Linked DNA regions of Homo sapiens. The protein of the gene in region 1 interacts with the protein of each later gene in a pairwise test. Each region holds a gene or a part of one and is shown on either strand. Other genes may lie near its edges.

The links. Proteins that work in one complex are often made in the same cells at the same time.
Region 2: the proteins of ITPRIP (region 1) and RASSF3 interact in binary tests that used the Homo sapiens proteins (3 or more experiments, as listed by UniProt).

What each region holds. Positions count from the first base shown.
Region 1 is NC_000010.11:104,314,403-104,321,485, forward strand, and holds part of ITPRIP (inositol 1,4,5-trisphosphate receptor-interacting protein precursor), read right to left. Parts: intron 1,663-7,083; coding exon of another isoform or gene 1,650-1,662; coding exon 6-1,649; 3' UTR 1-5. UniProt on the Homo sapiens protein: Enhances Ca(2+)-mediated inhibition of inositol 1,4,5-triphosphate receptor (ITPR) Ca(2+) release.
Region 2 is NC_000012.12:64,606,043-64,613,494, reverse strand, and holds the start of RASSF3 (ras association domain-containing protein 3), read right to left. Parts: upstream 3,001-7,452; 5' UTR 2,863-3,000; coding exon 2,752-2,862; exon of another isoform or gene 2,649-2,751; coding exon of another isoform or gene 2,574-2,648; intron 1-2,573.

The DNA.
Region 1 (7,083 bases):
AGACGTCAGCTTTTTGGGGTAGGCTGGTCTGAGGGGACATGTAGGGAATACTCGCTAATGAGCGCTGGGGCATTCTTGAGCATCTCATAGAAGGAGTCCAGTGTCTTACGGTAAAGGCTTCGCTGCAGGACGAAGGGCCGGAAGAGGTTGAGGGGCTCGGCCCTGAGCACGGCCTCAGGGAGTCCCATGGCCTCAGGCACCTTGCGGTTGCCGATGAAGAAGTGGTGGAGCTTCTTCTGGAGCAAGCTCTTCTCCAGGAAGCACAGCAACTCGTGCAGACGAGCGTCCAGCTGCCCCGCCTTCCAGTCGGCGGCCTGCCGGAGGAGTAGGAGGTGCAGTAGGGCCGTCTTCAGGTGGTAGCTGCTGAGCCCGCTGGGACCGGTCAGGCGGCTCTGCTTGGAGAGCAGGAAGGATGCTATCTGCAGGCAGCTGAGGTGGCAGGCGCCCTCGGGCAGTGCCTTTAGTGTCGTCCTGAGGAAGTGTCGCTCATAGACAGCAAAGGACAGGAGCCAGTCTGTGCTGGAGGCTGGGGTGCCCTCAGAGGGCTCCCTGGGAAGGTGGGAGACAAAGTACAGGTCCGAGTCATCACACTGGATCACAGGAATCAGGTTGAAGGGCATGAACTTCCCTGAACGGAACTTGATCTTCAGGGACCCCGGGCTGTCCAGCTGGCCAAAGGCCAGGTCGAACTCGTACTTGTGGGCGATGCCCTTCCAGGCTCTGGTGAGGGCCGTCTGGAACCACTTCATGACCTGCATCGTGTCCAGGTACAGGGAATCTGTGGCACACAGCAGGTTCTCCATGTCGCCGCAGGGAGGCGCCATGCTGTTCCTGCCGTGCAGGAGACACAGCATGTCTTCCCCGAGCTTGGTCTTGCCGCAGATGCAGCTCAATGTGTCCCCATCGGCGCGGACCACCTTGATCTGGCCGTAGCCCTGGCGATCCAGGGGCACTGAGCGGCCGGAGCACCAGAGCTCTGGGTGGAAGCGGTAGGGCTCGGGGGGTGTGAAGGGCACGAAAAGGTGGCACAGCAGTGGCCTGTCCACCTGCCAGTTCTCGTACATGCTGTCCACGCCAATGAAGTCCTCCACCTCCATGTCGGTGTCCCGGTTGCAGAGGCTCCTCAGGGCTTCCAGCAAGTCATCCACGAAGCCTTCCAGGAACTCCCGGGTACGGGCTGCATCGGCCGTGGCCCCCCGGATGCAGCGCTCATAAAAGTGGCCAAGCGTGGCCTTGTTGGGCAGGGTGAGGCCCTGCAAGGGGGCGCCCCCCAGCCCAGGCAGCTCATCCTCCTCACCGCCCAGGCACTCAGGTGAGGGCCCCTCCTGGTGGTCCTGCCGCCACACCTCGATCATCAGGAAGAGGATCATGCAGAGGGTGCTCCAGAGGTCCCAGGCCACGCGTGTCTCGTTCTGCTGCCTGCCCTCCTCCGCCACCTGCTCCAGTGCCTCCTTTTCGGCCGCCAGCCGAGCCACCTCCTCCTCCAGGCGCAACTGCTCCAGCTGCAGCTTCTCCTGGTGCGCCTGCATCTTGCGGATGATCTCCTCCTCGTTCTCGGGGACTGTGGCGTTCTCCCGCGGGAACAGCAGCGGGTGGTTGATGATGGCCGTCACCACCACCAGACACACGCGGAAGAGCCCCATGGCCATGGTTGGAGCTTTCCTGGGAACAGAGAGACAGATGGTCACACCAAGCTTCCCTCAATGCCACTTCGTCCCTGGGCCCCGCACCAACCTCAGCCCCTCAGGGCTGGTTAAGGTCTTAGTTCTCCCACCCAACCCATCGAGAGCTCCCTGCGGCTGCCTCAGGAGCTTCAGTCCAGCCATGGAAGAGCCCCAAAGGCCTACCCTGGGGTGGACATCTGTTTTAGTCCTACCCAGACATTCCTGGATGGCAGCAGCACCCCACTGTCCCTAACCCTTTTCTCCTACCAGTCCTTATGGCCAGGGCGAGGATATACCCACCTCCAAGCTCCTGGGGTGGGCTCAAAACCCAGGCCCAAGACAATCAGACATTCTGCCGCCCAGCTACAGCTAGAGCGATTGGTTCTGGGATGAGCATTTGATCCAATTCGGGCCAATGAGAGACAGATGTAGGGTGTGTTGGGCCCAATAGGAAGAAAGACTCATCCTGTTGCTAGTTTGGTTGCTAGGTTGCTGAGGGAACAGGATTATACCTGCAGTGGGCTCTCGGGAAGGGAGCCCGCCTGAGAAAGACACCAACATAGAGGAAAGCAGAACCCCCCCTCCCCACACTCAGCTCTGCTTGAAGGCATTGCTGTCTGAGCTCTTTAGTCACACAAGTCAATAAAGAAACCCTTTTTAAGTCAGTTTGAGTGGCCTTTCCACCACTTGAAATCAAAATAGTCCTGAATAACATATCCCCTTCTCTCCCAAGTGAATGTCATCTTCCTGCAATACAGTGAAGCCTAGTGGTTAAGGGAGAAAGGGCTAGGTTCCAAACCAGCACTGTCAACTGAAAAGCTGTGTGACCCTGGGCATGTTAACACACCTCTCTGAGCCCTGGTTTCCTTACTGCACAAGGGGAAAGCAATAGTATCTCACAGGGTCATGGTATTGAGAGACGCAATGATCCCTGCAAACTGCATGGCCCAGTGACCAGTGCAAAGCACATATTCACTGAACAATAACTGTTTCGGAAGTAGATTTGAGCCCTTATCCTCCTCTTCTGTAAACGTCTCTTTCTGACCTGGAAGACCTTACCCCATATTCAGACACACTCTCCTGGCTTTTGTCTTTCCCCAGGACAATCTTGATGATGACCAGAGAGCAAAGAATCACTAATTTCTTCTTACCAGGCATGTGAACTTTAAATCTAACTTCTTAATTGTGAAAGGAGGCACTCTGTTCCCCTAGGATAAGTGGATTTTTAAGCCTCAAGTGACTTTTGGAGAAAGGCTAATCCCTACAATCTTTGCAATTCGAAGTATGATTCACGGACCAGCAGCTGCAGTATCTCCTGGGAGCTTGTTAGAAATGCAGAATCTCGGCCCCACCCACACTTACTGAATCGGAATCCACATTTTAATACCATCCATATAAAAATCTGAGAGGCACTGTCTTACGCTGCAAGACTTAGTTACACCCTCTCCTCTCCTCAGCAGGAATCCTGGGACTTAACAATCTGCTATTTCCACACTTGAACTACCCCCCTCCTTGCTTGGGACCTCGATGAAGGAAGCAAATGGCCAAATGCAAATCAGTTGAGGTCCTGAGATTGTTGAGAGCACAGGGCTCCTTCTACCACCCCCTAGTGCACACTAACACTGGCTGATAGGAGCTACTGTGCCAACCTGAGCCCCATTCCCTTTGGCTTGAGCCCGACCTGGAATTTGCACAATGAAATTCTTGTCCTAATGGTGCCAAGGAACAGGGATTTGTCCCCAGGTAAAGATACCTCTGCAGGTTGTCCCTGGCAAGTGGCAGGATGGAGATGGACTGAGTTGGCTGCTGGTCACGCCTAGACAAACTTGCTGCTCAGATGTGACTCAGACAGTTCCACCCCATACACAGCTGGACAGGTCTGCAGGAACCACAAGGGTTGGGGAGTGGAGAAGGTCCGTCCTCCACCCTGAGGATTCTCAGTGTGGGCCTCAGAGGTGAGCACTGAAGCACTTACAGGTTTCCACTGGAGGAGGAAAGCGGGGACAGGATGAAGTGGAAGAAGTCACACTGCAAGGTGGGTGGGGTAAGGAAAAAGTGCAGGGGGCAGCGAGCCAGCTTTCCTTCCCCAAGCCAAGGAGCAGCTTGCTGGATAATGGCAGAAACAGGTCAGCCTGGTTTCTACATTAGAGAAACATCAACGGAAAGTTTTGCCAGGGAGGGTCCAAGGCATAACTAACTGCGAGGCTGGGTGATTAACATGGGTGAGAAAGTTAACATAAAGGTGGAGAGTACTCATAGCAGAATATCAGGCAGCAGCCAGTTAGGAGATAATTTGGGGGGTTTTAGGGTCCTTCAAGCTGCCTGGATCACAGGCAGCCACCTTTGGACACAGTGGGCCTTGACCAGTCACAGTAATAGCCCGGACAACCACCTACCCAGGTTCCTTGTCAACTCAGTGCAGGATGCCACGAACAGGTGAGTGGGGCCACGGCCAAGCCCTATGGCTGGGAACCATCCCTGTGTCTACGCCACACTTCATGGTGCTACTTGCTACATCCTCATTCCTGCCAGAGGAGGAGGAGCTGTAAGAGCCTCCTTGTACTGGCACAGGCAAGGTTCAGAACTCCAAACCAACTGAAGGGACCAACTCTGTGTGCAAGAGGAAAAGAGGATAGACTCGAGAGGAGACAAGACTGGGTCAGAACCCAGTATGTGCACCTACTGGAGGTGACTTCGGAGAAATCACTTCCCAGAACCTCAGTTTCTTCATCTGTAAAATGAGAATAATCATATCTACTGTTATAAAGCTTGAACAAGATAATGCATGTAAAGCACTCAGCAACATGCTTGCTCCTGAGCAAGTTTTCTTATGAAAGGAACTGCGATGGGATGGAAATACGCAGATGACCCTGCCTGCTGGGGTTCAGGGCGGAGTGCGCCGCAGACGCCCCTACAAGGAACTCTGGCAGGATGTAGGCAGTGCATAGTAGCACTGGTAATTGTAGGATTACAGACAAGACTCAACAGAAGCACCAGGGAAACAGGGCACCAGCCTGGGGAAGGACTGCAAGGAAAGGGGGCCTGGGCTGTAGACCCAGCAGACCTGTGTTCTAACCTTGAGTGACTGTGGGTGGATCGCACAGCTTCTGCGCTCCCACGCTTTCCCTGTGAGGAGGAATTAATAACACTTCCTCCTTCACAGGGATGTTGGGACGGGTGAGTGAGATCATACACCTTGGGTGCTTAGCACCGTGCCTGGCACAGGGCAGGCTCCTCTCCTCAGCATCTACAGGCTTCTGCTTTCTCACCTGCTGAGCACAGCAGCCCTGCCTGAGCCCCAGGCATGGGGAGTAAACACACGCTCGAAAGTGCTCTGAAAGCACAAGATGTTCCACTGCTATTTCTCCTCCTTGGCACACCCCTGAGTCCACCCTGGCCCCCAGCAAAGGGGAGAAGGCTTCAGAGCCTGGGATCCTCCTGCAGGTCAGGGGTTCCCTCTGACTCACTTTCTCACGTAATCCATCTCCCCGCTTCCCCGGATCGGATCCCAGCTGTCATTTGGCTCCCTGTTAAACTCTGCACAGGCTGGCTCTGTCTGCAGCACCCTATGGGATAGGACAGGCCGAGGCAGATAATAGGGCTGTGGTCGCTCAGGGCCCACCAGATGGGGTTCAGTTTGAAGCCTCTGGTACTTCCCCTTCCCAAACCCAGTCACAGGAAACACTGCCCTGGGGACCCCAGGGGTCAGAAGAATGTCCTGCAGGCCAAGAGGATTCCAAAATAAACCTTAAAAACCAGTTCATGCCATGATGGGAAGGAGGAGCCGACAAACCCCATTATACCCTCCTCCCTCTGGAATTCAGGCACAACTGAACAGCATTAACGTTAAAACAGAGATCCTAGGAGTGACAAAACAGACTCTGTAGCAATAAGATACCGAATTTCAACCCAATATAGCATCATATGAGATAGCAGGCCCTGAAAGAAATCAAAGTATTTTACCCCAAAATATATTTCTTTGACATATTTTGAAATGGCCCTGCAAAGCTGCCTATTGTCAGGAAAATCTACATTCTGTACAGAATCTCCTTCCCTTTCCAGGTCTCTCCTGATCCAGGAGAGATGAACTAAGAGTCTGATCTACATTCTGTACAGAATTTCCTTCCCTTTCCAGGCCTCTTCCTGATCCAGGAGAGATGAACTAAGGGTCTGGCACCTTTTTAGGTTTGACAGACACTTACCATCTCCTGTCTCTGAAACTCGCTTCCTGGGACTTCAGCTACATAGTAAGAACCATGGTCTCCATACCCCTTATCCTAGACACTCCTTTCTACTGATTCCAGGTCTTTAGATAATAACTTAACTCGTTCAACCAATTGCCAGTCAGAAAATCTTTGAATCCACCTATGACCAGGAAGCCACTCCTTGCCCTCACTTCAAGTTGTCCCATCTTTCCACACCAAACTAACATATTCCTTACACATGCATTGATGGAGGTCTGCCTGTAATTTTTTTTTTTTTTTTTTTTGAGACTAAGTCTCACTCTGTCGCCTGGGCTAGAGTGCAGTGGAGGGATCTCAGCTTACTGCAACCTCTGCCTCCCAGGTTCAAGCAATTCTCCTGCCTCAGCCTCCTGAGTAGCTGGGACTACAGGCATGCCCCACCATGCCCGGCTAATTTTTATATTTCTAGTAGAGACAGGTTTTCACCATGTTGGCCAGGCTGGTCTCGAACTCCTGACCTCAAGTGATCTGCCTGGGATCACAAGTGCTGGGATTACAGGTGTGAGCACCTGGCCTGCCTGTAACTTCTGTCCCCCTAAAATGTGTAACATCAAGCTGTAACCCAACTGTCTGGGGCACATATTTTCAGGATCTCTTGGGACTGTGCCTCAGGCCTTGGTCATTCAGATGGGTTCAGAATAAATCCCTTCAAATATTGTATAGAGTTGACTTGTCCACAAAAGGGAAGGAAACAGGGCATTCTGACATTCTGAGACAGGACGGGTAGTGAGGAGCCTCTCACAAACCATGGATATGTGTATATGTGTGCATGTTCTTGCACATACCAGCACATGCCTCCCCAAAGAGTCCCCTACTCCCAATTCCAAGGATGTCCACCTCTGCCTTGGCCCAAAGTTCTCACCTCTACCAGGCTCTCCCGCACCTGTGGTCTGAGACATCAGCTGGTGGGTTTGGCTTTGAGAATAAACCTGGGTCACTTGGCGGGCTTTTTTCTGTCTGCTTGCCAGGAAGCCTGCTGAATTCCTCTCCACCTCTGCCCTTGTCCACAGAGAGGGGCGGCCCATGCAGTTCACAGCTAAACTTAGCCTGGCAACGCTGGAGTCACGGGGCAACAGGGGCTGAGGGAAGATGGAAGCTTCTGGGTGGCCCGGACAGAGGGCTGCAGGTGGCTGGCTGGGACCAGTGGTTTATTCAGACCTTTACTGTGAGGCTGG
Region 2 (7,452 bases), on another chromosome or scaffold:
TTCCAGTCCACCCGCTCCCTCACCCCTTTCTCCCCATTCTGCATTTACCACAAACATCTTGTTTTCTCCGGATATTTTCAAGAAATCTAGAAACCTCATTTTTCTCACTTTTCCACCAGGTGGTACAGCATCCAAAAAAAAAAAAAATCACTGTATCTCTAATAGATCCTTCTAGCAATACCTCTCTTTCCATCTCTCTAGAGAAAGGATAAATTTCACTACTATGATGTATGTCAGAAGTGCTTATCTTATTCTTATAATCATCAGCATGAAAATGAAGAAAAAGGCTTATCTAACGTTAGATAAAAGGAACATTCTACATTAAGAGTGTTTTGCTTTATATTTATGATGTTTTACTTCCCTAATTCACCAATCTTACCAGGAATTTAAAACATTCATATCACTTCTTTAAATAAACCACAATGCTCACTAAAATTCGTAGTTTAGAACACTTTCTCTGCCTGGCAAATAACTTCTACAACTCAGCACCTTACATGTGTTATGTTAGAAGGGAAAAATATGCAGGCAATAAAGCTTCAAATACACATATGAAGCTCTTCAACCACGAACTATGTCTTCCTGTCCTGATTTCCAACACGATATTTCAAAATACATATTAATGTTAGACTAATTCTAAATGCTAAATAATACTACCCTGAGTATAATATATATGCTAGATGATACATAAATGATTGCATACAACATAGAAACAATAAATGTGCCGGGGGCGGTGGCTCACATCTGTAATCCCTGCACTTTGGGAGGCCAAGGCGGGCAGATTACCTGAGGCCAGGAGTTCGAGACCAGCCTGGCCAACATGGTTAAATCCCATCTCTACTAAAAATACAAAAATGAGCCAGATGTGGTGGTGCATGCCTGTAATCTCAGCTACTCGGGAAGCTGAGGCAAGGGAATCGCTTGAACCAGGGAAGCTGAGGTTGCAGTGAGATCACACGACTGCACTCCAGCCTGGGTAACACAGTGAGACTCCATCTCAAAAAAAAAAAAAAAAAAAGAAACGCTAAATGCATATAAACCTAGAAAAAAACTGATGTCTTTACTCTTTAAAGCACTAAAGGATTCTCATACAATTCAAACCTGAATAGTTTGGCCCTTGTGGCATCTCACCCCTGGAGAATCCAAGAACCAGCCAGTTTTCAGGAGATTAGCAGACACCTCTGGAATAAACTTCAAACTACCATGAGTTCCTTTTCATGTCAAGTGGTGAAAGCAACATAAATGAAAGGAGAAAATGCAAAACGGAGAAGGGGAAGAGAGAGGCCAAGAAAGAGAAAGCAAAAATGGAAAAAGCATAAGCAAATGCAATTTTTCTACAACCCAGGGAGGGTGGGCATGGGGGAGGAGAGGGCGTTTCCAACTTCCAAACTTCACAGCAATCTCATGCTCTCAGAACACACTCTGCTGAAAGTAAGAGATCCCACTCAAAGTGACTCGTAAATAGTGGGGCCTTAAGCCTTAGAAACAATACAAGACGGACAACTATGGCACCGGGACTTGAGATTAACTGCGGTTACTGAATAAGGGCACTTGACTTCAGCTTACCCTTCACCGTCTCCTCTCCTCCTCCTGGTTTGGGACTTAAGAGCCTGAAAAGACTAGAACTTCCGAATTTTAGAAAGAATTTTACTTCAGAAAGTGGCTAAACTTAAGAGGTCTGGCAAGACCACCCTGACAGATTGCACCCTCCCACATCCACCAAAAGAAGTTATCATCCGGCCCCTGAACGATTCTTCTTGCTTCTAGTCTCTAGGTCTCAGTCCGGTATTAATAGAAATGTTTGGCGAACGCCTGTTTTCTAAAAGCAACAAATTTGTGCCATTACAATCTTCTGTAATCTGATGTGAGCGTGGCCGGGTTGGCCCGGCTCCCCTGGTGCGGCTCCTAGTGCCAGGAGGCCGCGGGCTCTAGCACCGGGCTCCTCAGTCCAGCCGACGTGCCCCGTTTCGGGAAGGCCTCCCAAAAAACACGGCTACAGCTGGCGAAACTGGCACAAGTTCCCTTCCCATCTTTTCCCAACTCGTGCTTCCCACGGCATGCTGCCTCCAAAAAAGGAAGAAACCGGCGAAAAGGTTAGCTGTCGCTGGCTAGTATTTAGCATAGGAGCTTGTTTGCAAAACATCTGGGCACCAAAAAACCTAGCTTTACAGAAAACGCACAACCCTGAGTCCCGCAACGGAGATTTAGTGAGAGCCTATGGTGGCGAGGCCCACGGTGCCCTTGGACCCCCACTCCACCAGGTCGCCCGGGCCAGGAAGAGGGGAGGTCAGGTCACCCGGCCACCCCTAGCTATTACACGTTGACCCAAGCCACTCTGGGGGCCACAGATGAGTAAGCTGACTAACAGGAAGGACAGGCGCGCGAACCCGACCGTCGACCCAGCGGGGACGCGAAGGGGAAACCTGGGGGAGTGGCCCGGGGACGCCTGCTGGCTCCGGGGCTGCTCCCCGCAGGCGGCAGCCCGAGGCGGAGCTGCAGAGGCCATCTGGCGCGGAAGGCAGAAGCCGGCCCTCAGCCTCCCCGCCCTTCCTCCGCCTTCCCTCGCCTACACGCACAAGCTCCAGGCACGTTCCCGGGACCCGAAAAGGCAGAAGCCACTTCTCGGCCCGCTCCTCCTTCCCGGCGAGCATCCCCCGAGCGCCCCGCAGAGACACGTGGAGGCAGGGGGCGCGGGCTGGCGGGTTCCCCGGAACTCTGGGGCGCGGGCTGCAGCGCCCGCCGCGCGCCACTCACTTGTTGGCCGGAGCGGGGCTTGCCCTGGGGCGCTCTCCTGAAGAAGGAGGTCCTGGCGGTGAAGAAGAAGTCCTCGGCGTCCTCCTCCAGGCTGCTGTAGCCGCTGCTCATGCTGCCGGTCCCGTCGCGCGCGGGCGGCCTCCCCGGGGCGCAGGCGGCCAGGGAGGGGGTGCGGCGCCCGCCAGCCCCGCGAGGTTCCCGGCGCGCAGCCCCGGGCAGTCCTTATGCAGCTGCGGCCGCCGCTCAATCAGGCTCTCCCGGCCCCTCCTGCCGCCTCCCCGCCAGGCTCCAGGCGCGGCTCGGCCCCGGTGCGCCCGCGACCCCGCCTCCCTGGGCCCCGCCCCGGACGGGCGACCGGCCGAGCCCCACCCCGCGCGGCCGCGACCCTCCCCGCCCGCCCGCAGGTGGGGGGAGCCCGGCCCGCCCCTTCCAGGCGCGCGGGTTTCTCCCGACAGCGTCGCGGAACCCGGAAAGCCGGGCGCTAGGGCTGCGTCTGCTGGGGCTGTGCTCGGGTCGCTTCCTCAACCTCCCGGAAACTGCAAATTCCTCTGCGAGCCGTCCGCCCGCCCCCAGCCTCGCTGGCTCGAGTTTCGGAGAGGGCGGGAGCAGAGCGGGGAACTTTCTCTGCGTCCACTCCCTGCTCGCCCCCGCACCAGGGTCCTGTAGGGGTGGGTGGGGGTTGCCCGGCCGAGGGACCCCCCAGGTCCCACGGCTTCCTGCAGCCGCAACGCCCAGTCCTGAACCCCAGCAGCTCGCCCCTCCAGGAGGATTTCAAGTTGGCAGAGATGGGTGGGGAGGTCAAAAACTGGGTTGAGTTTATTCGAATGAAAACATCCTTTCTGGTCATTCATTTGAGCTTCGGTCTTACCCTTTTCCCCTTCTTTCTAGCGAGGGCTCACTTCCAAATAAGATCGTTATCTTAGGCGCACTCAGTGCAACTGAAAGGTGAACTAGTTCTATAGTTACAGAACAATCGAGTGCTTATCAATTAAATGTGCTTTGTAAATGTCCCCGCCACAATCAGCCTTCCACGGTCACCCACAAGGCATGGTTTAAGTGGTGGGGATAAGGAGATCAGGGAATTCCATCCATCCACGTACAAAAAAAGTTTCCATGTTTTCTAAAACTCTTCAGTCAGCTAATCCTCTTAAAGCCACCAGTGGGTAACAGTCTTTTACACCTTGGTGTTACTGCACTGATTTAAATAATACTAATTTCAAGATCTTGACTGAAAGGTTTTTTTGAAGCTGCAAGCCCTGCTATAGTTAGCGAGCTTCAGAAGAGGTTTCATTAGGAGGGGAAGAGAGACGTTAGAAAAGAGAAAATGTCCATCCATCATAGCCAAACTAGCCAAACTCTCTTACATTATCTCCTTCAATCCTCCGAGCAACTCTGCAAGGTACGTAGTGCTATTTTATGCCGGTTTTACACCTAGAGCAGCAGCTGAGGCTTAAAGAAAGGAAAGTGGCTGTAGGAGGCAGTACTCGGACCGTTCTGCTTTGCGTTCTGTTGATCTGAACGTGGTCACATACCCTACTGGGTTCTCTGCTTGGTATCGGTCAGCCGTGCTCTTTTGTGGACTACAGGAGGAAGAGTTGGACCCGAAATGACGGGAAGGAGAGAAGAATTGACTCATGAGTCATCCTACTGTCCCTAGGCTGAAAGAAGGCTTGCAAACCTGCTCCACCTTCGGGCTTACACATCCATCTTGTAAACTAGTATATATTACCCCACGTGATTCACAACAACTCCAGAAGGAGGGCCTTTGAGTTACAGCCCATTTTAAAGGTCCTACAACATTAAAGTCTTCTTCTCGGCCACACAGCTACTGAATGATAGGAAGCCAGGAATTCTAACTCCATATAGTTTCACCCAGCTTAAGCTGATCCGTGTGTGTGCCATGCACATAATCTAATGTAGGAGAATAGGGCTTTATGACAAATTTTTCTTATTTGGTTTCTCTTATTTCATTATTCAGATATAATATTAGCGCAGCTCTTATTAAATATTCCAAGGTAAGAATAATGTGTAGGTTAAGGGCTTAAATTACTCATTTTATTGTGGGTAGAAAGGGGAAAATAATTTTACCTAGAACAAGTTGAAGTTTATGAATACTTTGAGGAAAAATGCATTAAAATGCTTTATTGGCCGGGCGCGATGGCTCACGCCTGAGGAGGCAGAGGCGGGTGGATCACTTGAGGTCAGGAGTTGGAAACCAGCCTGGCCAACGTGGTGAAACCCCGCCTCTACTAAAACTACAAAAATTAGTTGGGCGTGGTAGCGTGCGCCAGCTACTCGGGAGGCTGAGGCAGGAGAATCGCTTGAACCCGGAGTGGCCTAGGTTGCAGTGACCCGAGGTGGCGCCATTGCACTCCAGTCTGGGCGACAAGAGCAAAACTTCGTCTCAATAAATAAATAAATAAACTTTATGATGCACCACACCATAAAAATGATTTTTTTCATTGTATTATTTTTAAGCTCCAAAGGACTGGATTAATTTGTATATCTGTCAGCATACCATCAGAATCAGTTATAATAAAAAGGCATGATTGAGTGGGGCACAGGGGGAAGCTGAGGTGGAGGATCACTTGAACTCAGGAGTTCCTATCCAGCCTGACCAACATAGTGAGACCTTTTCTCTAAAAAAAAATGATTTTTTTATAAAGGCATGATTAGGCCAGGCATGGTGGTTTACGCCTGTAATCCCAGCACTTTGGAAGGCCGAGGTGGGAGGATTGCTTGAAGCCAGGAGTTCAAGACCAGCCTGGGCAACAAAATGAGACCCTGTCTCTACAAAAACAAAAACAAAAAACAAAAAAAAATTAGCCAATGTGGTGTCACATGCTAGTGGTCCCAGCTACTCAGGAGGCTAGGTGGAAGGATCACTTGAGCCCAGAAGTTTGAGGCTGTAATGAACTATGATCTTACCACTGCACTCTAGCCTGGGTAACAGAGTAAGAGTCTGTCTCTTAAAAAAATAAATAAATAAAATAATTTTAAAAGCCATGATCAAATAATGAAATGGAAGCACTGCTTTTAAGCAACAAAAAAAACATAAATAAAGGAAAGGGCCGAGTGAGGTGGCTCACGCCTGTAATGCCAGCATTTTGGGAGGCTGAGGCCGGCAGATCACTTGAGGTCAGGAGTTCAAGACCAGCCTGACCAACATGGTGAAACCCCCATCTCTACTGAAAATATATAAAAAAATTAGCTGGGCATGATGGCACATGCCTGTTGTCCCAGCTATTCGGGAGGCTGAGGCAGGAGAGTCACCTGAGCCCTGGAGGCAGAGGTTGCAGTGAGCCAAGATCACGCCACTGCACTCTATCCTGGGCGACACAGGGAGACTCTGCCTCAGAAAATAAATAAATAAATAAATAAATAAAGGAAGGAAGAATTGTGATTTTGTTTCCTAAAAGCAGCATAATGATATTTGCATATTTTTCTGGTAGCTTTTTTTTTTTTTGAGACAGGGCCTCACTTTGTTGCTGGAGTGCAGTGGTGCCATGTTGGCTCACTGCAGCCTCGACTTCCCAAGCTCAAGCAATCCTCCCACCTCAGCCTCCCGAGTAGCTGGGACTACAGGCATATGCCACCAGGCCTGGCTAATTTTTATATTTTTTTTGTAGAGACAAGATCTCACTATGTTGCCCAGGCTGGTCTTGATGAACTCTTAGGCTCAAGTGATCCTCCCACCTCGGCCTCCAAAAAGGCTGGGATTACAGGTGTGAGCCACCATGCCTAGCCTGGTAGCATTTTTAATTAAAATATTGTGAATTTAAAATTTAGCTCATGAAAATTGTATCTGTAAAAATTCAAAATGTCATGTTAAGCAACTAGACACTTTTAACATTTCAAATTCAGGGAAGGGGGTGGAATAAATAAAATTAAATGTATGCAACCAAGTTCAAGTTTTGTTTTGTTTTTTTGAGACGCAGTCTCACTCTGTCACCCAGGCTGGAGTGCAGTGCTATGATCTCAGCTCACTGCAACCTCTGCCTCCCGGGTTCAAGCGATCCTCCCGCCTCAGCCTCCCGAGTAGCTAGGATTACAGGCACGCACCGCCTCACCCGGCCAATTTTTGTATTTTTAGTAGAGACAGGGTTTCACCATGTTGGCCAGGCTGGTCTCAAACTCCTGACCTCAGGTGATCTGCCTGCCTTGGCTATCACTGACTCTTATGTGACCTTTAACAATTTAATTAACTTCTCTATGCCTCAGGTTCATCAGCAGCAAAATGGGGATGACAATGTCTTCATTTTATTTTCTTTGGTTTACTGTAAGGATTAAGTGAAAGAATCCAGGCAAAGTCCTTGGCATAGAATAGGATCAAGCAAATATTCATCTTTCTTGCCCCAAATATTAGACCTTATTGCATACTTAACATTCATCACTCACTTCTTTCTTGTTAACTAAACAAGGACTTTAATTCAAGAATCCCCTCGGGAAAAGAAGTCCAATCTCAGCTCACAGGGGTAAGGCCTGACGTGCAGAGTCAGTCGTAGTGGTCCCATTCCCCTTGCCAGGGATTGCTTTAGGCATGGACAGGTCTCACAGACCTGACCACTGAGACCAGAAGGAAACCTGGCTTGGTGCCTTTTAGGAAGATGTTCCTCACTTTTAAAAGAAACCTACAAAAAAAGACTATGTCTTCTTCCTCTGGATCTTGCATGCTTGCATATGGTACCTAGGAATTCTGTA